Regions from separate parts of the Homo sapiens genome. Here region 2 is linked to region 1. Evidence: fine-mapped expression QTL. Tissue or cell type: blood mononuclear cells. Region 1 holds a variant in brackets; the other region holds the start of a gene. All regions are shown on one strand. Distances are from middle to middle. Region 1 overlaps ASAH1 (N-acylsphingosine amidohydrolase 1). Region 2 holds the start of ASAH1 (N-acylsphingosine amidohydrolase 1).

The links. PIP is the estimated chance that this variant, and not a neighbour inherited with it, causes the effect.
Region 2: ASAH1 starts here. The variant in region 1 is fine-mapped to the expression of ASAH1 in blood mononuclear cells (TOPMed, PIP 0.99).

What each region holds. Positions count from the first base shown.
Region 1 is chr8:18,058,808-18,070,094 of GRCh38, reverse strand. ASAH1 (N-acylsphingosine amidohydrolase 1) reads left to right here. Exons shown (of 14, transcript NM_177924.5): 4 at 217-303; 5 at 2,797-2,875; 6 at 5,564-5,638; 7 at 6,865-6,910; 8 at 7,672-7,816; 9 at 8,355-8,409; 10 at 8,637-8,718; 11 at 10,392-10,523; 12 at 10,631-10,754; 13 at 11,204-11,260. Among named protein-coding and RNA genes, the nearest start is that of ASAH1, 20 kb to the left of the region's middle. The variant T/A (reference allele first, on the strand shown) is at 6,784.
Region 2 is chr8:18,076,561-18,092,443 of GRCh38, reverse strand. ASAH1 (N-acylsphingosine amidohydrolase 1) reads left to right here and starts at 8,337. Exons shown (of 14, transcript NM_177924.5): 1 at 8,337-8,463. The coding sequence starts at 8,386. It overlaps ASAH1-AS1 (ASAH1 antisense RNA 1), which reads right to left and starts at 7,576. Exons shown (of 5, transcript NR_125429.1): 1 at 7,505-7,576; 2 at 6,959-7,202; 3 at 5,508-5,561; 4 at 5,307-5,419. It also overlaps the pseudogene MRPS18CP3 and the pseudogene ABRAXAS1P2. RefSeq lists enhancers at 7,355-7,890, 7,691-7,970, 8,771-8,880 and a silencer at 8,221-8,420.

The sequences.
Region 1 (11,287 bases):
GCAGGAGAATCGCTTGAACCTGGGAGGCAGAGATTGCAGTGAGCCGAGATGGTGCTACTGCACTCCAGCCTGGGTGACAGAGCGAGATGCTGTTTTAAAAAATATATATATAAATTGTCAAATAGCACTCTCTTTTAGCTACATATGGGTAAGCCAAAAGGTAATCTTGACAGCATTTCATTATGTCTTTTAGTAAGCATTTTATTTATTTTTCAGCTAAAGGTTATAGTGAATTCTCTGAAGAATATGATAAATACATTCGTGCCAAGTGGAAAAATTATGCAGGTGGTGGATGAAAAATTGGTAAGAGATATTATTTCTCACAATAAATGTTAAGCACATAGAAAATGCGCTGTTATTTATTTAAAGGCATAATTCAGCAACCTCTTCGCAGGGACTTGGGCAAATCTGCATGAATCTAGCTCACTGTCAGAACTTCAGAGGGACTTAAATTTGGGGAATTGGTAATATTAGGGTTACAGCATAGCAAATTATGGTTTCGTAAAAGGGGATGGGACTACATTACGACATTGGGCAAATAACCATATTTCATCTGGGAGTGTGGTATTTCCTTCCCTTTATGTAGTGAGTTCACTATTGAAGACTTGGTTTTTTTTCTTAAGTGTCTCAGGGACATCCAGAGATTTTTTTTTTGTAGATATGAGCAAATGACATACTCAGCCTGGCCCCTTATTCTGTAGAGTTCCTCAGTAGCTCTGACCCTGAAACTCATTTGGGCTGAGTGTTTCTGTGCAATCACCAAACCATTTCATTTTCATCCTCATCATGCAGGAAGACTCCATTTCTCAGCCCCGTTTTTGTTGACGCAGAACCAATGAAACACCTAGGGCCTGGCCCCTAGAACTGTTAAAGGGATCCTCATTGCTCTTGATGGCAGATTTTGGGCATTAATGACATTTGGGGTTGGGCAGCTTTTTTTTTTTTTTTTTTTTTGAGACCTCATCTCACTCTGTAGCCCAGGCTGGAGTGCACTGGCATGATCATAGCTCACAGCTGCCTTGATCTCCCAGGCTCAAGGGATCCTTCTGCCTCAGCCTCCTGAGTAGCTGGGACTACAGTCACGTGCCGCCACACCCAGCTACTTTTCTGAATTTTTAGTAGAGACGGAGGCTTGCTGTGTCACCCAGGCTGGTCTCCCAACTCCTGGGCTCAGGCGATCTTCCCGCCTCAACCTCCCAAAGTGTTCTCCCAAAGTGTTGGGATCGTAGGTGTGAACCGCCATGCCCGGCCTGGGTTGGATATTTCTTTGTCGTGGGCTTGTCTACATTCCAGGATGCCCGGCCTGGGGTGGGTGTCTCTTTTTTGTGGGGCTGTCATGTGCATTGCAGGATGTTTAGCAGCTCAGGATGCCCGGCCTGGGGTGGGTGTCTCTTTTTTGTGGGGCTGTCATGTGCATTGCAGGATGTTTAGCAGTGTCCCTGGCCCTTACCCACTGGATGCTGGTAACACCCCCTCAGTTGTGACAACCAAAAATGTCCTTAGATGTTACCAAATCTCCCGTGGTCGAGAATCATTGCCCTAGCGGCTGAGTGCTGTGGCCACATCCTCCCTATGACACTTGTACCTGCCAAGCACCAAACCCATTATCCCTCACGTGCATGCTCTCGGAGCTTTTGTTTCAGGCTATCCTTTATGTTCATACTTACCGGACTTCCTCAAAACAAAAAAATGCTGGCAGGAGCAAAAGAGGATGAGGCCCCCACGTTCCCCGTATGCCTTAATCTCCCCTCTACTCTGAATGTTATCAGGGAGGGCAACATTGCAGAGAGTTTTTGTGCCACGCCTTGGAATCGGACAATACTGGGTTTTAAGGCTGGATCAGTCACATACTAGCCTTGTGTCCTAGGGAAAGTTTCTTAACCTATGAAACCTCAGTTTTCTCATCAGGGAGAATAATAATTACTAATATATATTTCATATGGTGGTTGTAAGGGTTAAATGACATACTGTGTATAAAGCATAGTGCTTGGATGTAATAAGTGTTTAATAAATACCCATTACGTCACATTTGTTTGTTAAATGGCTGGAACATTCCACTTGGGGAATGCTTTGAGTTCCTAGGGAGAAAAAAAATATGTTTAGGTGACATTACATGTAATTACCAAGTTGGTTAAAAAAGTGAGATTCGTGAATTTTAAGCAGATTATCTCAGCAAAAGGCCGTGAACTTAAGTTGTGATCTGGATGTTAGTAGTTGCCATTGAGAATAAATATATGATGTCCACCACTGAATTTGCTCAATGTCTCTGGTTTGCTAAAAGAATGCAGTTACTTCATCTTAGCTGAAGATCAGCCATTAACCATGACACAGGGCTATGGATAGAATAGTGCAGGTTTATCTCTGTGAGTGTGGGAAGGAAATGGTAAGAACGGTATATGCCAGTGGCTAGAGGGTGAATTCGTGCAGAGAGATAAGGAGTGCTTGTTATGATGTTTTTGTGGTGTGGGTCAGGTTAGGTCATCCAAGTGGAATTACTCTCGTTCCTGCCTTCTCTGGAGAATGATGGAAAAATAAGGCAGGAAAAACAATCTGAGAATCTGGTCTCTGTATAGGGGCCCAATATTCAGTATTACATAGAATCTTTTTATAACTACATGATGTAAAAATGCTTTAAAAAATAATTCCTATCACTTATTATGATAGCAGTATCTAGAAAAAATTATATGTCCAAGAACTAGATTTCAAAGCATGCTTTTATTATATTTGTTTATATTATATTATATATTTTTTATTGTTATTATGTTAAATGCTTTTATTAATATATTTGTTTTCCAGCCTGGCCTACTTGGCAACTTTCCTGGCCCTTTTGAAGAGGAAATGAAGGGTATTGCCGCTGTTACTGATATACCTTTAGGTAAAGTTCACTTAGAAGCTTTAAAAAAAAAAGTAATTAAATTCTTTTACAAGTTTCCATTGAGGTGTGATATACATACAGCACAGGTGCTGTATGTCTTAGATATACAGCACAGGTGCACAGGTCTTAGATATACAGCTCAGTGAAGCTTCAGAAATGCATGCATGCATGTAGCCATGACTCAGATCAAGATACGGAAGAGCCCAGCACTCCACGATGCTCCATCATGCCCCTTTGCAGAAAATACTGCCTCCTCCAGTAAACACTATTCTGATGTCACTATAGATTAGTTTTGCCTCTTCGTGAACTTTGTATAAATAGAACTGAACAATATGAACTGTCCTGTGTGATTTCTTGTATTTCATTATGGGTGGTGTGCTATTGTATCAACAGGGTATTTGGGTGGTTTTCAGATTTGTGATATTAACAATAAAGGAATTATAAATATTGTAGTACATTTTGGGGGTGTCTGGGTACTCATTTTCTGGATATATACCTAGGAAGTGAACTGTTGTGTTATAGAGTAATTGTGTGTTTAGCCTTATAGATTCTGCCAAACAGTTTTCCAAAGTGATTCCAGCAGTTGACAATCAGCAGAGTATGAGAGTTTCAGTTTTCTCCTCTTGATAATTCTCCTCTCGATAGTGTCAGTCTTTTTTTTTCCTTTTTTTTTGTTAGTGTCAATCTTTATTTGAGCCTTTTTGTTGAGTGTCGCAGTATCGCATTTTAGTTTCAATTTGCATTTCCTTGATGATTAATGAGATTGAACAGTTTATTGACTTTTTTTTTTTTTTTTTGGTTTTCTTTGTTTCTTTTGGAGAAGGGCTTGTGAAGGTCTTTTGCCCTTTTAAAAATTAGATTGAAGGAATTTTTTACATACTTTGAATATAAGCCCTTTGTCAGATATATGGATTCTGAATATCTGCTCCCAGTCTATGACCTTCATTTTTATTCTCTTACTTTTGTCTTTTGATGAACAGAAATTTTTAATTTTAGTGAAGTCTAATATCTCAGTCTTCTCTTTTATGAGTAGTGCCTTTTGTATCCATTTAAGGAATCTTGGCCTACCCCAAAGTCATATATATATGCTTATATATTTTCTTCTAGATGTTTAATGTTTACTTTTTACATTTAGGCCTATCATCTATTTTGAATTATTTTTGTATATGCTATGACTTATGGGTCAAGCTTCAGGTTTTTCTCATGTGGTATATCCAGTTAGTTAAACAGCATCAATTCAAAAGGCTATCCTTTCCTCAGCAAATTGCAGTGGTGTCTTTGATATAAATATACAATACATATATATATACACACACACACACACACACACACACACAATGTGTATCTGTATATACAATCAGGTGATTGTATATATGTTGTTTTGTTTGGGGAATTAAGTTTCATTTACATATTTGTCTTTTTGTCTTCCCTTATATCAATACTATTTCACCTCAGTTACTAAAGCTTTATAGTAAGTCTTCAAATTAGGTGGTATAATTCTTCCAACTTTGTTTTTCTCAATATTTATTTAAGTTACTGATTTCTCTGAGCAGTATCTTTTATTTTCAGGGAGAAGACCTCACATGCCATTCGTTAAAATTATTCTTAGATATTGATGGTTTGGGAAGCTATTTTTAAAATTTCAATTTAAGCTTTATGGCATGTAACGAAAAATATTTTCCCCACGACCCCAAAAGTTTTATCTTTAAGCTAGCAAAGCAGTAGTGTCATTATTTTAAATAGCCAACAGTACCTTCATTTTATGAGATGATTGAGAATTTGTGAAAATCAGTAGTATTTATCAACAAAAGTGGCTAGTTTTGTGTGCTGCTTCTTTAAAAAACTCATTTAAAAGATAGCATACTGGAAATATGTACTTGCTGCCTTTATGGAAAGCAAGTCTAATTCCTTTATTATGTAAAGAACTCTAGCAACTCAATACCAAATAGAAATACCTTATGGATTAAGAAGAATAACATGATGTATAAGTGGTGTAAATTTATATAATTATTATAAATTATTATAAATGTATAATAAAATAACTAGAATTTCACCAAATTAGAAATTTAATGGAAATAAAATACACATTGGATTTGGGTGAAAAAAACATGTTGAGCTTAACATGTTAATGTTAAATGGGACAGAAATACAATGTGCTGCCTACTTTTGAATTAAATGCTAAATAGCAGTATTATACATTTTGGGAAAATATTCAAAAAATAAAATACCCTAGAATGGAGTTTCTTGGCAGCTCTGTACTAATTTTAATAGTTCTTGAATCTCCTTTTTCACCTTAGAAATTTTAGTCACACTTTAAAAATCTGGGCAAAATATATGTCCAGCAAACAGCCAAGAGCCAGATGTATTAAATGATCATATTTACGCTCCCAAAAGAAAATTCAAAATGAAGCATGTTGATAAACATTTTGGATGTGATGTTGGAGAACAATTGCAACCTGCCCAGATGTTCAGCTCGCCCGAAGGCTGCCTCCTTGGTGACTTGTTTCATCTTGAGTCTAGAGAGTCCAGGCTGGGGAAGAAAACCACCTCCAGCCGGCCGTTCCAGCACAGCCCCACTGGCCAAAGCACACACTCACACAATGAAAACACTGAAACTTTTTCTTAAAACAAATTTTTCTCCCATTGTCATGGTTCTGTATATTAACACAAAATTTTCTTTTCTCATAGGAGAGATTATTTCATTCAATATTTTTTATGAATTATTTACCATTTGTACTTCAATAGTAGCAGAAGACAAAAAAGGTAATTGTGCGCTGAGGGAGGGTGGGCAGCATGAAGCACTACATAAAGAAAAATCTTCTAAATGAAATTAGAACTTCTGAAATTTGGGCTTGCTATGTAAATTCTGTGTATGTTGCATACAGCTTTTTATTTCTTGGTAAAATTTTGTGATTGTACTGAAAATTTTCCTTATTTTCAGACTACTGTACTGCCTATTAAAGTTGATTTCAGACATGCAAAAAACCTGGAAGAAATGTTGCAGGGCTAGAAACATTCTTCTCTTCCTCATAGTTTACTTCTACCCATCTACATGCTTTGATGGAAGTGCTCGCAGGAGGTGCTTCCTTATCTTCGTGTATGTCATGACATCTGTCCTTTTCTTGAGGCCCAGAACACACATTCTCCCATCCTTTCCCAGCCAGGCAACCCAATGGATACCAGCCTCACTTTCCCGTATTTTTCCTGACTGGTTCCCAGAGTACAAAGCACAGGACAACTTCGCTAACTCACCCTGATCTTTGACCTATACTCTGGGTATAAATCTGCCTGTACCTTACCCTTGAGATGTCCTGCTCTAGGGGATGATGCCTGAAGGGAAACATTTGATGAATCACAGTAATTGAGGCTCCGATTTCTGTGTCCTGGTAGAACCATGTGATAGTGAACCAAAACATGACCATTGATTCCTTTTCCCATATTCTGATCTTACCTGGAAACCCGTGCTCTCAGATTTTGTGGGGTTATCTGGCAGATAGACGGTGACAACAGTCCCATCTGGTGAAGGCTTAGGATATTAGGATGTTTCTTACTTCTTATTGTTTGAAGAAACAGTTGTGAATAAAAATTAATCAAAATTAGAGGCCAGGCACAGTGGCTTACACCTGTAATGCCAGCACTTTGCGAGGCCGAGGCGGGCGAATCATCTGAGGTTGGGAGTTTGACACCAGACTGGCCAACATGGTAAAACCCCTTCTCTACTAAAAGAAAAATACAAAAAAAAAAAAAAAGTAGCCAGGTGCGGTCGCACATGTCTGTAATCCCAACTACGTGGAAGGCTGAGGCACAAGAATTGCTTGAACCTGGGAGGCAGAGGTCGCAGTGAGCTGAGATCGCACCACTGCACTCCAGTCTGGCCAACAGAACGAGACTCTGTCTCAAAAATAAAT[T/A]AATTAATCAAAATTAATTGTCCAGCTTTGATTTAGAATCTTAACTGCTATTACACGTCTCTTCTGTCTACCTTCAAATAGGTCATCTAATACATGGGAGAAACATGGATTTTGGAGTATTTCTTGGGTAAGTAAAGAACAAAGGGTCAGGCATGGTGGTTCACGCCTGTAATCCCAGCTTTTTGGGAGGCTGACACGGGTGGATCACGAGGTCAGGAGTTCAAGACCAGCCTGGCCAAGATGGTGAAACCCCGTCTCTACTAAAAACATAAAAATTAGCCAGGCATGGTGGTGGGCATCTGTAATCCCGGCTACTTGGGAGCCTGAGGCAGAGACTTTTTTGAACCTGCGAGGCGGAGGTTGCAGTGAGCCGAGATCGCGCCACTGCACTGCAGCTTGGGATACAGAGCCAGACTCCATCTCAAAAAAAAAAAAAAAAAAAAGAACACAGAACTGTTTTGGTCTGTAGGAAGAGTAGGTTGTGTTATATTGATGATAAGTAAGTCCCAAGTCACACCCAAAATGTGATCATAAGTGAAGATAAATGGATTGCTTGAGTGCTGAGACAAGAGGGACATGCTCTTCTATTTTATGTGTCCATCTTGACCTTTCTGAAAAAATAAGAATATTGTAATTAGCATTCTATGTTTGAATCTGAGGCTCACTATTTATAAGCTGTGTGATATTGAGAGAGTTACCTGACTTCTCTGAACCTCAATTTTATCATTTGGAAAACAGAATAAATATACCATATTGTAAAGGTCTTGTTAGGATTGATCGTGGTGACTCGGTAAATAAAGCTCCTAGTGTAATGCCTGGCCCTCATCATCATGTTGATCATTACTATCACTGTGTTTCTGAAATGTCACTGAAACATGTCTTTTATAGGTGGAACATAAATAATGATACCTGGGTCATAACTGAGCAACTAAAACCTTTAACAGTGAATTTGGATTTCCAAAGAAACAACAAAACTGTCTTCAAGGCTTCAAGCTTTGCTGGCTATGTGGGCATGTTAACAGGATTCAAACCAGTAAGGAGTCTGTTGTTACATAATTATACAGGTAGCCTTCTGTCCTGTTACCGTTATGTAAAAGTTGAAATCTAAGAATATGAGGACCTAAAGGGAATATGAAGCCCCATTTCACCCCCTTGTACTTCTTGTCACTTCATAGGTATGAGATCTCGTGGTAGAGAAGAGTAGAAAGGAAACGGAGGTTTCTGAGCCTCTTCTGGGATAAAGAGCATGTGGCTGGGTGTCAAGGGCTGGGAGTCACAATCTGATTTCTAGTCCTGGGTCTTCCGCTCACTTAGGCAAGTCAGGCGTTCATTCTCTGCCCTTCAGTTTCCTGTCCAAAAAGCGTTGCCAGTGATACCCCACCTACTTATCTCACATACTAGAATCAAAAATGCTTTGAACTTTTTAAAAAGCCTTTTATGGTTTTGATTTATTTTTGCCTTCCCCATTACCCAAGCTAGGCCTTTATATCCCACTCTGAAGTACAGTGAGCGACAGGGCCTTAAAGCGCATGGTTGATGTTTCTGACTTCGTTGCTTTGTCTTTTTCTCAGGGACTGTTCAGTCTTACACTGAATGAACGTTTCAGTATAAATGGTGGTTATCTGGGTAAGTAGAGCATTCTCAAGTGAAATGGGAATCTCAGAGCTTTTTTATGAGGAAGGCTGGACTGTGCCTTCTGGTTACAAAGTCCAACCTCTTCCGGTTCCCGACTGGTTACAAAGTCTAACCTCTTCTGGTTCCTGACTGGTTATATAGTCCAGCCTCTTCCGGGTCCTGACTGGTTACATAGTGTCACCTCTTCCGGTTCCTGACATTGTGTTCATCTCTTCCAGGTATTCTAGAATGGATTCTGGGAAAGAAAGATGTCATGTGGATAGGGTTCCTCACTAGAACAGTTCTGGAAAATAGCACAAGGTAAAGTGTTTCGTTGCTTTACTATTAAATATTTATTTTAAATTACTCATATTAAAAAATAAAAATATTTGTCAAGCTCCAGCTTAATCCTTTGAGGAACTATTGCAGAATTTCTTAGGTGAACCTCTGACACTCATGTGGAATTACTCATGTTTTCTTCGTGCAGACTGTGTGTTTTATAGCAAATAAATGAATTACTTAAAAAGCACTAGGGATACTGACATTATGAAAGGCACCTATGAATATTTTTGGTGTACAGAAAAAAAATGACCCACACACAAAAGAACAGTCATACAGTAAAATCTTCATTTAAATGGTAGTACAGACCAGGCACAGTGGCTTATGCCTGTAATCCTCACGCTTTGGGTGGCTGAGATAGACAGATGACTTGCACCCAGGGGTTTGAGACCAGTCTGAGCAACATGGCGAAACCCCGTCTCTATAAAAAATACAAAAATTAGCCAGGCATGGTGACACGTGCCTGCCTGTAGTCCCAGCTACTCAGGAGGCTGAGGTGGGAGGATCACCTGAGCCCAAGGAGGTCGAGACTGCAGTGAGCTGGGATCAGTCCACTGCACTTCACCCTGAGTGATAGAGTGAGACTCTGTCTTAAAAAAACAAAATAAATAAATACAAAATGTACTACATATTAACCTGTAAGTTATATCTTGCCTTGGTATAGAAATCTTACAATAGCAAAACTGCCTTTCCTTCATTCAGCCAGCACTGCGTCCAAATAAATGGGCATCAATCCTATTTTTAATACTTCCCAGGGAATAAGATTTAATGTTAGTAGTGTTCTTTGATAACCCACTTCAATTTTTAATAGTCCTAATTTTCAAGAAGGTTTACTTTCTGTTCTCTAAGTCCTACATACTGTAATATTATTTCCCTTTGTTCTGTTGTTGAGTGAAAGGCATGGACAGTAAGGGTGGAAGATGATCTCTTGAGGCCACTTTGTTTCTCCTTCAGATTAGAGGGGCTTCCTAAGATTCCCGCTTCCCATCTCAGTGTTCACCATACAGGGTCAGGGATTGCTTTTCCCAGAGGCATTGCTCACCATCCTTTTTTAGAAAACACATTGTGGCTGGCCATGGTGGCTCATGCCTGTAATCCCAGTACTTTGGGAGGCGAAGGCAAGAGTATCGCTTGTGCCAAGGAGTTCGAGACCAGCCTGGGCAACAGAGTGAGAGCCCATCTCTAAAAATAGAAATAAATAAATAACACATTCCTTAGATACTTGTTTTTCTTTAGTTTCTACAGAGCTAAACATTTCCGTTCTAAGTCATCTAAAAATGTTTCCCACCATCATCCTCAGCAAACTAACACAGGAACAGAAAACCGAACACTGCATGTTCTCACTCATAAGTGAGAGCTGAACAAAGAGAACACGTGAACACAGGGAGGGGAACATCACGCACCAGGGCCTGTCAGGGGGTGGGGTGAAAGGGGAGGGAGAGCATTAGGACAAATACCTAATGCATGTAGGGCTTGAAACTTAGATGATGGGTTGATGGGTGCAGCAAACCACCATGGCACGTGTGTACCTATGTAACAAACCTGCACGTTCAGCACATGTGTCCCAGAACTTAAAGTAAAATTTAAAAATAAATGAAGTTATTTACTAAAATTAAAAAAAAGTTTCATTTTTCTTTTTAAATGTTTCTATATAGTTATGAAGAAGCCAAGAATTTATTGACCAAGACCAAGATATTGGCCCCAGCCTACTTTATCCTGGGAGGCAACCAGTCTGGGGAAGGTTGTGTGATTACACGAGACAGAAAGGAATCATTGGATGTATATGAGTAAGTAGGTTTGTTAAAGCAAAAGAAGTAGAAACAAAAGCATACACTGATATACTTTGAGTTTTAAGGCATGTAGCCTAAGAGGGAATCTCTCCTTTTGTATCTAGACTCGATGCTAAGCAGGGTAGATGGTATGTGGTACAAACAAATTATGACCGTTGGAAACATCCCTTCTTCCTTGATGATCGCAGAACGCCTGCAAAGATGTGTCTGAACCGCACCAGCCAAGAGGTACCTTTGCAGGGTCATCTATAGAAAGAAACTGTTGCCATTAAAGATTCCCTTGGTTCTGGCATTTTTCTTTGGCCTTCAAGTAATTTATAAACGTCCTATTTTTCATAGTATCTCTAGCCACTCTCCACTGATTTTTTTGTTTCGTTTTCTTAACTTAAAGAGCAAAATTGTGCTGTACTTTCCTTTTCTGGTTCTAATGCTGGATACCACTCTGAAGTTGAATAACAAACAGGCAAGAATTTAAAAAAGGGGAAGGAGAGAGAGGAAAGTAATCCATTAAAACTGTTACCTGTGTTTCTAACAGTGACTCCCACAGAAACTCCACTGCGGGGATGGAGGGGAGGTTGATTAAAGAATGTCTTGGTTTCTGGTGGCCCATGTGTGTAGATAAGGCTGTTGGCTTCTGTATTTAACTTACTGAACAAAACTATTTTCTTGTGTTTTAGAATATCTCATTTGAAACCATGTATGATGTCCTGTCAACAAAACCTGTCCTCAACAAGGTATTTTAAATGTTATATGTATATTTG
Region 2 (15,883 bases), 20 kb before region 1:
ACTCTGTCTCCAAGAAATAACAATAAAATAAAAATATAAATATAAATATACAAAATTAGTCAGGAGTGGTGGTGCATGTCTGTAATCTCAGCTACTCGGGAGGCTGAGGCAGGAGAATTGTTTGAACCTGGGAGGTGGAGGGTGCAGGTGCAGTGAGCCGAGATTGCACCACTGCGCTCCAGTCTGGGTGAGAGAACAAGACTCTGTCTCCAAAAACAAACAAACAAAGCAGTCAAGAGCAAAGATCATGGCAACATTTCTTTTTGATGCTCAAGGCATTTCGCTTGTTGATTTTCTGGAGGGCCAAAAAATGACAACATCTCCTTATTATTAGAGTATTTTGAGAAAGCCAAAGCCTTATCAGAAAAATGCCCAGGAGATTCACCAGAGAGTCCTTCTTCACCATGACAATGCTCCTGCCCATTCCTCTCATCAAACAAGGGCAATTTTGCAAGAGCTTCCACAGGAAATCTTTCTGACTTCTTTTTGTTTCCTAATCTTAAAAAATCTGTAAAGGGCACCCATTTTTCTTCAGTTAATAAAGACTGCATTGACATGGTTAAATTCCCAGGACCCTCTTTTTTTTAAGGATGGACTAAATGGCTGGTATCATCCCTGACAAAAGTGTCTTGACCTTGATGGTGCTTATGACAGGAGGCTGAGGCAGGAGAATGGCGTGAACCTGGGAGGGGGAGCTTGCAGTGAGCCGAGATTGCACCACTGCACTCCAGCCTGGGCGACAGAGGGAGACTCCATCTCACAAAAAAAAAAAAAAAAAGAAATAAAGTTTATACTTTTTATCCTTTAACTCCATCTTTGAACCTGGGAGGTGGAGGGTGCAGGTGAACGTTTTGAAGTCCCCTTGTATATATATTAGTGTTATATTCTTTTTCGGTTGCAAACTCCCTGAGATCTGGAATTTGTATTTCACTGCATGTGTATCTTCCATAGCACCTAGTAATCTGCTCTTCATTTAATGGTCATTTAGTACTTTCTATACACACATTATTACTATAATTGTTATTGTTGGCTTCTGTTGTCATTTCAGGGTGACTGTCATACTCCTCACCTTTCTGAGCTGGGAAACAGTTGAGAAATATACACAGGCGTTAGAAATATACACATATTAGATTCTGCTTTCTTGCTCATTAAGCTGAAATAGAGAAAACAATTTTGACCTGAGGCCAAAATGGAACTTCAACACCTTCTACTTTGGAATGAGCTTGTGTACTCAGTCTTTAGGCAAATGCAAATGACTTTTCAGGGGCACAGCCAATTTCTAACAGGAGGGGAGTGAGCTGAGGGCAGGGTGAGGATGGAGGCGCAGGGACCGGATGTGCAGGAGGTGCTTATAGGCGCTATTCCTTGACTGCCTTCTCTCTACATCTCTCAGAGCTCTCATTTTAGAGTGCTTTCTTCCAAATCTTCACAGCCATTACGTTATAACGTCATGATTTTAAAGTCTGTTGGTGACGTGCCACTTTGGGAAGATGTGGTCAAAGGCAGCAACTACTTTCACGTCCACTGTTGTCATTCAAGGCTTGCTGCAGTAGAATTACCAGTGTGGGCAGGCATATCTACTACTGTGGGGAGGCAGATCTGAATGAAAGCGCCAGAAGAGAGGCCAGGCCACGCACGTTCTGTGACCTTTTCAACTATTTACTGATTAGATACATCATACATCTCTCCTTCCCTAGGGAGACATGAATGGAGGAGACGGCAGAGAAAGGTGGACATTTTCTTCCAACAACATCTGATGCTAGATCCAGGTTTGGTGACACCTGAATCTTATGCAATTTAAGTGGTCCTCCTTAAGGAAAAGAATACAAAATTACAAGCATAAAATTTAGTAAAAGGTTGGGAAGGGGCATGAGCAAGTGAAGGTACTAAAACTTAAAGTTCATAGATTTGTTGTACATCCTTCTCAACAAAGGAGAAATGTCTATTTTCATGTGTGTATCAGTTAGGATGCTCTCAGATACAATAATTTAACTTGTAAGCAAACCAACTTGTCCAAGATTCAATAACAGAGTAGTGGCTGATGTAAATCAAGAGTCCAGTTGTTGGACAGGATCTGTGGTTGGTTGATCTAGCATCTTGACAATGTCATCAATGACCCAGTTTCTTTCCATCTTTCTACTGTGTAGTCCACAGTATCAATTTCATCTTAGGTGGCTCCCTTCAGGTTTATAGCATGCATGCCAGCAGCAATGGGGATTCCTAGCTTCCTCTTTCATATTAGAAGGGAGAAGACAAGGCCAAGCATGGTGGCTCACGCCTGTAACCCCAGCACTTTGGGAGGCTGAGGCGGGTGGATCACCTGAGGTCAGGAGTTCGAGACCAGCCTGGCTGACATGGTGAAACCTCGTCTCTACTAAAAATACAAAAAATTAGCTGGGCATGGTGGTGGGCGCCTGTAATCCCAGCTACTTGGGAGGCTGAGGCAGGAAAATTGCTTGAATCCGGGAGGCAGAGGTTGCAGTGAGCCAAGATCGGGCCACCTCACTCCAACTTGGGTGACAGAGCTAGACTCCATCTCAAAAAAAAAAAAAAAAGAATAGCATTACTGATTCCCAAATAGATGATGCTGAAGTTGTTTATACAATTGACATTCAGAAATATATTCCATGCTATCAGTTTTTTAGTTTTTATAATTCTTCAGGTGAAGTAAATAAGCAGGCACTGAGGAAAATATTATCAAATTCACAAAAAATGTGGTAGGTTGTTACAAATTCCATCGTCATTCAGATCAGATCATGACATTTAGAGAGAGGCTGCTTCACAAAAACTTGCAGGAGCATTTTTCAAACCAAGACCTGGTTTTTCTGCTATGAACACCAAGTATAATAACAGAAAGCCGCTCTACTCATCGACTGGAACATGCCTTATATAAACCTCGAAAAGGACTTTTTCACAGGGTACCTTCAGTGGTTGCCAATCTGGGCATGTCTGAACAACTAGGTTATAAAACTGTATCAGGTTCCTGTATGTCCACTGGTTTTAGCCGAGCAGTACAAACACACAGCTCTAAATTTTTTGAAGAAGATGGATCCTTAAAGGAGGTACATAAGATAAATGAAATGTATGCTTCATTGTAAGAGAAATTAAAGAGTATATGCAAAAAAGTGGAAGACAGTGAACAAGCAGTAGATAAACTAGTAAAGGATGTAAACAGATTAAAACGAGAAATTGAAAAAAGGAGATGAGCCCAGATTCCAGCAGAACGAGAGAAGAGCATCCAAAAAAGACCCTCAGGAGAACATTTTTCTTTGTCAAACATTATGGACCTTTTTTCCAGATTCTGAATTCTTCATGCATGTGTTATGTCTTTAAAAAAACAGACATGTTTCTAAAGGTAGCTCTAACAACCACCACCATCTCGATGTAGTAGACAATCTGACCTTAATGGTAGAAAACACTGACATTCCTGAAGCTAGTCCAGCTAGTACACCACAAATGGTTAAGCATAAAACCTTAGACTTAGCTGACAGATGGCAGTTCAAGAGATGACGGCGGACGGATCACGAGGTCAGGAGATCGAGACCATCCTGGCTAACACAGTGAAACCCCATCTCTAATACAAAAAAATTGGCTGGGCGCGGTGGCTCACGACTATAATCCCAGCACTTTGGGAGGCCAAGGTGGGCGGATCAGGAGGTCAGGAGACAGAGACCATCCTGGCTAACATGGTGAAACCCTGTCTCTATTAAAATACAAAAAATTAGCCCGGCGTGGTGGCAGGTGCCTGTAGTCCCAGCTGCTTGGGAGGCTGAGGCAGGAGAATGGTGTGAACCCAGAAGGCGGAGCTTGCAGTGAGCTGAGATCCTGCCACTGCACTCCAGCCTGGGCTACAGAGGAATACTTCGACTCAGGAGAAAAAAAAAAAAAAAAAAGAGTGTTCACGGCTGTTAGACACACAAGACAAACCATCTAAAACAGATACTGATAGTAGTAACCAATAAAAAAGCATCCAAAATGAGCAGCCCAGAAACAGATGAAGAGATTGAAAAGATGAAGGTTTTGGTGAATATTCACGGTCACCTACATTTTGATCCTTTTAACCTTAAAAGGAGATTTTTTTAATTTGGCTGATGGGTAAAGTCAAACATTTCCATTGTTTTTACTAGGTTGAGCTACTTGCAGTAATACAGGTAAGTTCATTTGTTTTTACTATATTCACCTCTTTGCAGTAATCCACAGATAAGTCTTAGTGCATTTATTTTACAAAGTACTTTTTCAAACATCAGATCCTTTTATTTCCAAACCTTTTTTCGCCTTTCAATAAGTTGTTGAGGGAAAGGCTTACACACATTCTTTAGAATTGGAAAAGTGAGGCCAGGCACAGTGGCTCACAGCTGTAATCCCAGCACTTAGGGAAGACAAGGCAGGAATGATTGAGGCCAGGAGTTAGAGACCAGCCTGGGCAACACAGTGAGACCCATCTCTATTAAAAAAAAAAAAAAAGTATTAGAAAAGCTAGAATAGCCTTATTTTCACAATGTGGAAAGAAATTTATATGAAATTTATCTGAGTCATTAAAATTATCCTTAGGTGATAATTTTTTAGAAGTACATTACAGCTAGTGTTGCCAGATAAAATGCTGGATCTCACGCAGTACCTTTGCAAAACATGATCTAAAATTTAAATTTGTCCTACATTTGTACTTGCTAAATCTGGCAGCCTTAATTATTACACAACTATAACGCAACACAAACAATAATCTCTCCCCTAGTTTAGAGTCCTTTGCACGAAATTTAGCAAATCCTTAATTTTGAGTACAGTACAAGCCTGGTAATCCAGTGTGTTTGGGATAGGCTGGTGGAACTCAGAACTGATACATATATACATACATGTCTATCACATTCACTGTCTATTAGGTGTAAATCATCTTTTTATGTAAAAGACACTACTGGTTTGAGGATAGAGTTGTCTAGGAATGTTTTGTCCTGCTGTGACAGCATCACTATGCATCCCAGTGTAACATTCCTACAAAGGGAAGATCTCTTAACCAGGCATACTTACATTTGCTAGTTAGAAAACCATTCTGAGCAGTTTTAACTCCATTCAGTTGAATGGTGTACTACATTGTATGAGCTATTTGTGGACCAGATATAAATGACTATCACCCAGAACCACTTTCATTCAACATATGTAAAATGTGATGAGTGTTAACATTTTAAATAAGCGATCTGCTTAATGAACACTGATTGGTATGAAGGGGAAGTGTCATTCTTTACCTCACTCCTGAAACACTTTTCTATCCAAAGGTTGGTTTGAGTCAGTATTGGCGTCATACAACCACTTACTATAAAATAAGTTTACTGGTGGTAATGTGATGGAATTTATTCCGGATATCTGATGTTATAAACTTTAGGGTCCCTGAAATATGCAGGATCCTTGTATGTAACTGGCATAAACCCTGTAAAGAGATAATTAAAGTTCTTGACAAAGCATAATGAGCAAAATTTCAGCTAGCTCAATACAGTTGTTGAGGTGCTCTTTCTTACCCATTGTTTGAGCTCTCTTAATTGCTTTTGTGATTTGTTTCTTCCCACAAAGACCTGTAAAATAAAAAGCTTCCTTATTCATAAAAAAGTCAATATTTAAAGTTAAAAAAATGTTTATTTCTCAAACTGAAACATTATTTCTCTATCTCTTGACCTTTTAGTACACGTTTTTGTATATTCGGTTTTACTAAATCAAGTCAAACCTGTTCCAGGTAATGTGATGTTATACATGATAGGTTTCATTTAGGGTGGGGTGGCTAAGTTGCAACCCTTTTAAATCAAGGCTCCACCTCAGGAACCTAGGAATGTTAGGTAGGAGATGAGGAAGTCCACAGCTTGCCAAGAACTTCAGCTATTCCATAAACAATCTGATTACATATCCCGACTCTTGCACACGAAACAGGTTATCCAAGTCTTAAACTTGATGCTTTTGTGCAGTATGAACCACCCTTTCCGTGGACATAATCATGCATTTGCACATTTAAATACCATTTTCTATGAACAGATCAGTATGCCAAAAACCACTGCAAAGTCTCCTACACACACCTTGCCTTGACTTTCTGTACATTTCTAGTATTAAAGAATGGTGTAGGCAAAATAAAGATATATGTGTAAGAAAAAAAAGACATGCATGAAATGGTTTAATTTTAGGGAACTAGATTTATATTTTATCTGAAAAGAGTATTAATAATATATAATAGACCTTTGAAAGTTAGACGCATAGTTCTGCGAAAGTGGTGCCTAAGAATAGTATGTCAATTGACAAATTTTTTCCATAAAGAATCTGATTTTGCTAGACTACCTAATCACCAATTAACATCCTCCAGTAGGGAAAAAAATATGCTTGGTGACATGTTTAAATCGCTCTCAAGAGTACTGAAGATGAATGATCTTCCAATCAAGTAGCTATTTGATTTAGTAATAACAACTAAAAGATGGGAATCCTCTTCTTCGCACACTCATTTTAAGCTCCAAGGTAATTCCATAGATTCAACATTTAACACGTATATTCAATATTACACATTTTTTTTCCGGAGTGAAATGGCTCTGAATGCCTTACAGAATTTGCCCTGCTCTCCTTAACTAAATACTTTGTCTATTAATACTTCTTTCTTCTTTTCCCCTTGTTCTTTCTGTGCCAGACCCACACACGTCTGCTGTAATTGAACATGCCAGGCACATTCTCCATTTAAAGCCTTTTAACAGCTGCTGTCTCTGCCTAGAATACTCTTACTTGGGCACACACAAAACTAGCTTCCTGGTCTCCCTCAACTGTCTGCTCAAACTTCACCTCCTTAATCATGTCTATCTGTCCCTCTTATTTAAAATTGTAACTCTACCACTTCTGATCTCCACACTTGATGCCCCTGGCCTCCCTTTTCCTCCACTGCATTTGTCACTAACATCCCGTATAATTTTCTTAGGTATTATGTTTATTGCCCATTTCTCACCGAGAACATACGCCTCAGGGTGGAAGAAGTTTGTCTTTTTGTTGTTGTTCACTGCTTATCCCCAGTGTCAGGAGACATGCTTGGCACATTGTAGGTCCGCAGTAAATATTTTTTGAATTAATAAAGAATATTTCTACCATCTGCTAGCTTACTGTTCATGCAGGAGCTCAAATGTGCTTTAAGCATGTGATATGTTTCAAAAGTCAAACTTCATCCTTAGGGAGAACACTGTCATCTTCTCCTCCTTTAAAAAAAAAAAATAGGAAAAAAAGCAAAACAAAACATCACCTTCTCATTTCCCCACCTCCAACAAAAAGAGTGTTGAGTTTTCTAAAGAAATAATACAAATGGATAAAACTGCAATTTGTTGTCCTTTCTCTCACATGCAAAAAGAAAAGAAAAAATACTGCCGAGATTTCGGCAGCGTGCTGAGCTTCATCAAAGCATTAAAACAATGCTGCTTGAGACGTCAGAGGCTCATCCAGGAAGTGCAACCCAGAGGGCAGGATTTCCTGCTGGACTTTGAAATCCAACCCGGTCACCTACCCGCGCGACTGTGTCCACGGATGGCACGAAAGCCAAGCGAGTCCCCCTGCCGAGCTACTCGCGTCCGCCTCCTCCCAAGCTGAGCTCTGCTCCGCCCACCTGAGTCCTTCGCCAGTTAGGAGGAAACACAGCCGCTTAATGAACTGCTGCATCGGGCTGGGAGAGAAAGCTCGCGGGTCCCACCGGGCCTCCTACCCAAGTCTCAGCGCGCTTTTCACCGAGGCCTCAATTCTGGGATTTGGCAGCTTTGCTGTGAAAGCCCAAGTGGGTAACCAACAGCTTGGAGGACCCGAGTGGATTCGATTCTCTCTCACTCCTCGGCCACTCAACTGCTCCTTGTCCCTGACTCCGCGGTGGGGATGAATAACTCAACTCATTTCGGGCCGCTTTTCTCAGAGGGCAAAGATGGGTCAGGGTGGGATGTTACATTAGTGTTGAGACTCTTTGGATCCGTTTCGTGGGTACCGAGGACGCCTGGGTACGCGGGACAGGCTGCACCCGCCTGCTAGAGGCGCCCCATCGAGGCGCCACGGGTGAAGCTCCCGGCCCCACCTACGGGGCGGGGCTCCGGCTCGGTCCGACTATTGCCCGCGGTGGGGGAGGGGGATGGATCACGCCACGCGCCAAAGGCGATCGCGACTCTCCTTCTGCAGGTAGCCTGGAAGGCTCTCTCTCTTTCTCTACGCCACCCTTTTCGTGGCACTGAAAAGCCCCGTCCTCTCCTCCCAGTCCCGCCTCCTCCGAGCGTTCCCCCTACTGCCTGGAATGGTGCGGTCCCAGGTCGCGGGTCACGCGGCGGAGGGGGCGTGGCCTGCCCCCGGCCCAGCCGGCTCTTCTTTGCCTCTGCTGGAGTCCGGGGAGTGGCGTTGGCTGCTAGAGCGATGCCGGGCCGGAGTTGCGTCGCCTTAGTCCTCCTGGCTGCCGCCGTCAGCTGTGCCGTCGCGCAGCACGCGCCGCCGGTGAGTGAGCTTGAGCCGAGGCGCAGAGAGGGGCGTGCAGGTGCGGGCGCGGATGGAGGCGCAGGTGTGGCGGCGCGAGCGGGTACAAGGAACACCTCGTGCTGGGCAGCTTCTTTACGGGGGTCTGTGGTTTCGTGCACAGGGGTGTGGGTGCAGAGCGGGCTGGCGAACCCCGTCCTCGGTAGATTCGGTGCTACCTGCAACTAGAACTCCTTTAAAGGAAATCCTAGTCTCTGCAGGATACCTGGGTGTGATTCGCACATTCTTAGATTTGAGTGAGTGTACTTGAATAACCAGTTCCAGGCCCTTGCATTTTGAAGTGTTTAAATAAAATGTTCCGGTGGACCTGTGTGCATTACTCAATCAAGGACAGACTGCCTGATGGTCAGGTGCTTTCTCCCGAAGAAGTTCAGGAGTTCAGCCCAGGATACTGCAGGGCCGTGGGAAACGCTGAGTGGTCCCAAGCTTGGGCGGTGCGAGCAGCCCAGAGCAGGCCCCAAAGGGCCCCCTGTGGCCTTTTGCACCCAAGTCATGGGATCGCCTGTCCCGTGGCTCTTTCCCACGAGCAAGTCACAGGGCTACGGACTTCCTAACTGCAAGAGACAGTGAGGGACGAGCGTGACTCTTTCATTTTACAGAAGAGGAAGTAGACCTAGAGTGAGAAAATATTTAGCCAGAGGTTACACTGTTGTTTACTGAACATGCGTAACGTCCGAGCCTCTTGACGCCCAGTACTCTTTCATAATTCATTTCTTTATAAAGCAATCAGACTGCGTTTGTCTTTGCCAACAGAATCGGATAAGTAGGAACCTGGCGCATCTGGCCTGAGGCTAGATGGTGATGGTCTTGAATAGTTTAGGTAGGTTATTGAAAGTGGAAGCAAGATGTGCATTGTCTTCTTTTATACCTGTAAGGAGAAATTCTTTAAAATCATGGTGGGATATGATTTAGCCATTAAAATTGATATAATGTTCAGCAGATAAAAGTAGAATCCAGAATAGTATATACAGTTTTTCCTGTAATAGGAAAATACACAGAACATGTATGTGGACACGATTAAAGGCCTTAAAATAAAATTGCTCCATTGTGGGTAGGGAATTAATTTGCTTGACGGTAGTTGGTTTTATGGGAATTGGGAGAGACTTTGATACTTTGATACTGTCAGGGCCCTTCATTGAAAGACCACCAGGAACACACCATAAGCTGAACAAATTGGGTTTAGTGTTCTTTGAGGCAAAGGAGACCACACACCATGAGCGACGGACGGTAGGTTATAGAAAAAAACCCATTACAGAATTTGAACTTCGGTTGCATGATTTGGGGTAAGACTGAGGAACCGGGCTTTGCTGTAGATAGAATGCTGTTAGAAGGTGGGGCAATTCTGACTGAGTAAAGAAGGAACAGCCATTCTGTTTAGCACGAGAAGGGGATGTTTGGTGTTTTGTGCGTTGCAGGTGCCCTTGTTTTTGTCTGTTCTTAGAGAAAATCTTCAAGTGGCATTGCTTTGTCTTGGTGTGTCATGTCTCAGAATAATCTTATCCGACGTAGGTATCTGTGGGATTGTTGATGTCCAGGAGGAAAACAGAGCTTACCTGGCTGTGAGTGTCAGATCGGCTTGTAATAATATTGAGAGATAGCTGTGGGACTCAGAGCAGTTTCAGGTGTTGGAGGCTGTTTTTTCTTCTTTCTCAATAGCTTTATTTATTCTAGCAAAAGTATTTTGATAGCTATTTTCAGAAGAAGAATTAACAACCTCTCAATGGATATAATAGTTCTTATCTAGAACAGCGATTATCAAAGTCTAGTCTGGCCACTGGTGTCACTTTGGGAAGCTGTTTTCACAGGTTTTCAATGAAACTGGAAAAATAAGAATGCAAAACTAAAATTATTAATTTAGAATGTTAATCTTTACTCTGATTGTATGGACTTCAAGTTTTCATTGTTGCAAACGTGTTCTTAAAAATAACGGCAGAGGTAGATGTTATGTGCATGGAATTTGTTTTGTTTTAACATCTCCATTTGGCAGAATAAAAATTTGGACCCTCCTGTGCCAAGGCCTCATTAATTTTTTTTTACTGGCCTGGAAAATCCTGGGATCCATGCACTGAAGGACCTTTAGAACCTTACAGAAGTTTAGTGACTTCATTCTCTGAGAAGAATAAGCAGTTTTTCAACTGGAGTCATTATATGATAAACTATAGCCTCATGGTAACAAAAGATATTTCAAAAGTACTTTCAATAAATATGAATAATGAGAAGCAGCTTTAAATTGGAAACAAGTCATTTGATTTAGAACATCTGTAAGGATTTTTTGTGTGTTTGTTTTTGAGGCTTTTCACAATATTCCTATGTGAAGGTCCTCCTGAGTTATTCTTCATTATTGAATTTTTTAGGAGTCTATTAAGAGATGATGGTGAAGACAGTGGCACAAGAAATGTCTGGAGAGATAGCGCCAGATGACATCATCCAGGGTTCTGTAGACTCTTATTAAGGATTCAGAAATTTATCCTAAAAAATGGGAGGATCTGGAACCAGCCAATGGGAGGCCATTAGATGGTTTTAGACAAGATAACATTTTCACTTTAAAAAGATGAGTCTGGATTGGAGGTCAGCAAGGGTAGATATGAGGAGACTAGTCCAGAAAAGAAAACAGGGTGCGTTGAAGGATGGTGGCGCCAGGGGTGAGGGAGAGAAGTAGATGTTCTAGAAAAAAATCAGGAGGGCGAATGAGCTGAAGGAATCGTTGGGTGAGGATGAGGGAGTGAGGTGTCAGCGTGACCTGCACATTGCTGAAGTGCTTCGCTGGGCGAATGGTGGCATCCGTTCCAGGAAACATGGGGAGGGGAAAGCTTGGGGGCTAAAGAATGAGGATCGTTTTCATTTGGGGTGTATGTTAAATTTCAGGTGGCAGAGAGGCATCCAGCAGGCCACTCGGACTGGCACTCAGAAGAGAGACACTGAGAGTCACTGGCATAATGATATTATATTTGAAGCCCTTGGAGCAGATGAACTTACCTAGAAATAGGATAGAGAAAGAGAAGAAAAGAGAACTAGGCAAAGGCTAAGTAACTTGCACATGTATGTGTCAAGAAGAGGAGAAATTGCCAAAGTTAAAACAGGACAGGCCGGGCGCGGTGGCTCATGCCTGTAATCCCAGCACTTTGGGAGGCCAAGGTGGGCAGATCACGTGAGGTCAGGAGTTTGAGACTAGCCTGGCCAACATGGAGAAACCCTGTCTCTACTAAAAATACAAAAATTAGCTGGGCATAGTGGCTCACGCCTGTAGTCCCAGCTACTCAGGAGGCTGAGGCGGGAGAATTGCTTGAACCTGGGAGGGAGAGGTTGCAGTGAGCCAAGATCCTGCCATTGCACTCCAGCCTGGACAATGAGCGAAACTTCGTCACAGAAAACAAAAACAAAAAAATAGGAGAGTAAGTGGAACAGGAAGCTCAGGGAAGAGACTGGGACAGGTTAACTATGTTGAATATTATTGAGATGTCAGTGGTATTATGATGTTGGGCAACTGGAGGTCATTGGTCACCTCGACTGGAGCAGTGTTGGGGGCAGAAAACAGCTTGCGGTAGGCTAAGTGTGATTGGCAGGAAAGGAACTAGAGGGGAGAGATGGCTGCTCTGCGTAATAAATCTGACCCACTTCATAAGATGTGCGAAGATGAAACGTAATGGCTTAGTAATTAATTGCCAAAGTAAACTTGTAAACTCATTTTTATGCATCAGCTTCTCATACTAGTTAACAGCGTATGTCAACATTGTTGACATTAGCTATTGAATCAGCTTTAGCAATGATTTTCACGCAGTTGCCAGAAATCTCATAGACCCCATCTGGCCTAGGAATTTATTGCACTTCATCTGCTTTTCCCTACTTCTCCCAAAGAGGGAACACACAGGTGTAATCCATTCACTTATTCAACAAATACTGCTTGCCTACTATGTGCCAGACTCCTAAACGCTGGGAATGCGTCAGCCAATGAGATAGATGAGGTCCTTCCTCTCATGGAGGGTTTATTCACATTCCTTTGACCTAAATATCAGTAGCTTAATAGGATGCCATCCCATCAAAGCCCAGAAGACAAGTGAAAACATTTTCAAGCTCATGTGAATTCTTGTACACGTAGGAAACATGCCTCTTTGTATTCAGTGTTTCTGCTGAGTTGTACATAAGAGGACATTATAGGAAAAACTTGTCTGCAAAATAGTTGTTGATGAATTCAAGAATTGAATGAATGAAAAATTGTCTGGCTAGAGTTGTTTGGCTTCTGGTGGGTATGAAAACTGACATGAGGTATGTAATTTTAGATTATCCTTCATTGTCTCTTTCTGAGTATTTCAATAAGACAAGCACACAAGGGCTTTCTGGACTTTTAAAATTCACTATTAGAAGCATACATTATTTCATTGAGGGTCTCCTAATTCTTTCGGGCTCAAATATTTTAAGGAGCTGTACAAGTTATGCCATTTTTTAAGGGTATGGCGCTTTCATTGAGACCTTAATGTTCTCTTTATATTTTTGTGTTTTTTTTAGAATGTTGTGTTCAGTAGCTCTGTAATTAATTTCTCTTAATGAATGGGGAGGACATTCAAAGAGGCTTAAGTTTCTATCAAATAACCAGAAAAATTAGAGAATTTTCTGACCCAAACAGTCTTTTAAAAGCACTTTCCAGAGAGTTTTTTGTTTTTTTTTTTTTTCTGAGATGGAGTCTTGCTCTGTCTCCCAGGCTGGAGTGCAGTCACACTATCTCGTCTCACTGCAACTTCCACCTCCCGGCTTCAGGCAATTCTCCTACCTCAGCCTTCCGAGTACCTAGGATTACAGGCACATGCCACCCAGCTAATTTTTGCATTGTTAGTAGTAACGGGGATTTCGCCATGTTGGCCAGGCTGGTCTTGAAGTCCTGACCTCAGGTGATCCACCCACCTCAGCCTCCCAAGGTGCTGGAATTACAGGCATGAGCCACCATGCCTGGCCCAGAGAGTTTCAAATGCATTGAAATATCAGATTTTTACCACTTATCTTCACTCTTAGGAGACCACTGAGGGGCAGGGAGAAAGGTAGGGAAGGGCAGGGAGAGAGAGAGAAAGAGAGGTACTGTGGGGAGAGGGTTAGAGAGAATTGATTCTAAGTTGGATTTTGTTTCCTGTGATAGGGTGTACATAGTATACCATCCAGACCACATAATCTCTCTTCTTATCATCTGTTTCTAATCTTTACCTATCATCTATTTAAGTTTTTACCTGCCTTAATAGAGTTGTCTGTTATTAAACTGTTTATAAACTTGGGGATAGTAAGGAACTTTAAATAACATTAAGTAAGTTCATTATAATTCTGTTTTAGGGCTACTCGTGGGTTTTGAAGCTGTGTCTCCCTGTAGAATTCTTTTTTGAGGGGGAGGAAGTAGCTCTTTTTTCCACCCTACCCCTAAAACTAACCTTTTTGCATAAACGACTTAGGCGTTCATGCCATGTGAGCCCCTGAAATACTGTAGTCTCATAGCTGCCAACTTTCTTATTTTCTGTCACACTTATCCTATTTCCTTGCAGCCAGGTTCTATGCCAATTTCACGTTTGTTTATTGCTACCAAGAGTCGTTATCAACCTCAGACTCACTCCACATGTATTGTTGCTAGCTTGCTCTTTAGTTCTTACCTCTGGGGCAGGTCACATTCTCTCCTAATACTAGACAGAGCATTTTCAACTTTGCTCACAGTTGTCTAGTAAGAAATGTGCCTGTAATTTGATGTTTATTTTGGCTTTGGAACCCAGGGCGTGCAAATGTCATTATTAGGAAGGGATAGGAGTCATTACGTTTCACTTAATTTGCCGAGTTGATTCTAGTGATCACCAGAAGCCCTGAACTACGCGCAGATTATTCTGTTAGGAATTAAATTGAGGCATTGGTTTTATTATCTCTGTGGGAAGCTGTTTGATAGAACAGGGAAAGCCATTGACTCTGATTCTGTCACCAGCTGTGTAACTTTCTACAAGTCACTAATGGAGCAGGGTCTTAAGTCCACAACATGATCATAAAATTAAGCACTTGGGTTAAGTACCCATCACAGTATTCCCAACTCATAGGAAAACAATGGTCAGATAAACAAGAAAATGTAAAGCGGAGTATCTCCTCACAGCAGAACTTATTTACAAATTTTACAAAGTAAAATTAAGTTGCAACCCCTATAAGTCTCTAAGTAGCTCATTTATTAGCAAAATAAGGAAAGCCATTTACCAATGGTGGATTACCTAAATTGTATTCGATTGTAGTAGCAGAAGTATTGTGTCCAGGGAAAATGAAATTATTTTACATGTCATTGAGAACCCTTGTCCTGGACTTTGGGAAGAACATCAATATCAATTAAAGAACAAAGCATGTGATTTTTGAGTGATTTTTCTTGACTGTCAACATACCGATAACTGATCAGTTGTTGATATTTATTAGATGATCATTGCCAAGTTTGAAGTGACTGAAGAGTTAGCCTCTGAATCATCTGTATAAAACAACTACAGGCGAGGATGTTTTCGAAGAAGCTGAGAAAATAATGATTGAGTATAACCTGGAATGGAATCTGCTAAGATCTATAAAAATTGACAGTAGTAAAAATATTTGTGAGTAGAAAAAGGCGGAGTTGAGCAAATTCACAAAACTTGTGAACATGCGAGGTGTTTAAAGCTCATGGTTATTTATTATAGTATTCCTTTTCAGATATTTTGTGGAAAATATTGGAATCTCACATGTGTTATTGAACCGGCAATATAAACCATGAGCTTCATTTGCTCTTGTGGATATAACCGTCATCATTTCTGTGAATTATCAGAAATAGAGGCCGGATATCCTGATGTCTCTTGTGACAGAGCCATTAGATAGCTTGCTAGCTGTAAAGTTTTGCAGTCTTTGAGTTCACAGTTGAGACTGAAGTTTTTCTAAACGAGCTGCCCCCAGCCACTATTACTGAACACGAATGGCTTTGGAAATTAGCTTTTGCTACAGACTTGATATTGTTTCTTAATGAATTCAACGCAAAATTACCAGACAAAGCCAGACATATGTGAGAAACTTACAGTGTGGTAAGGCAAATTTGACAGCTAATGTTTGAATCACAGGTAATGTCAACCTACTTTATATATTCCCCATGTTATCAAAAGTTAAAACAAGGTGCTAGACCTCCATTCTTACACAGCTGTCCAGCAGATACATTTTCTGTGCTCAAGCTACAGTTCCAGGAGTTTTCTGAGCTCAAGCTACAGTTCCAGGAGTTTTCTGAGCTCAAGCTACAGTTCCAAGAGTTTTCTGAGCTCAAGCTACAGTTCCAAGAGTTTTCTTACCTACTCTACTTTATCTTATTTTGGATTTGTACTTTTTTAAAACAATTATTTTACTTTCACAGAACTGGTTCTCCAGAGGAAAG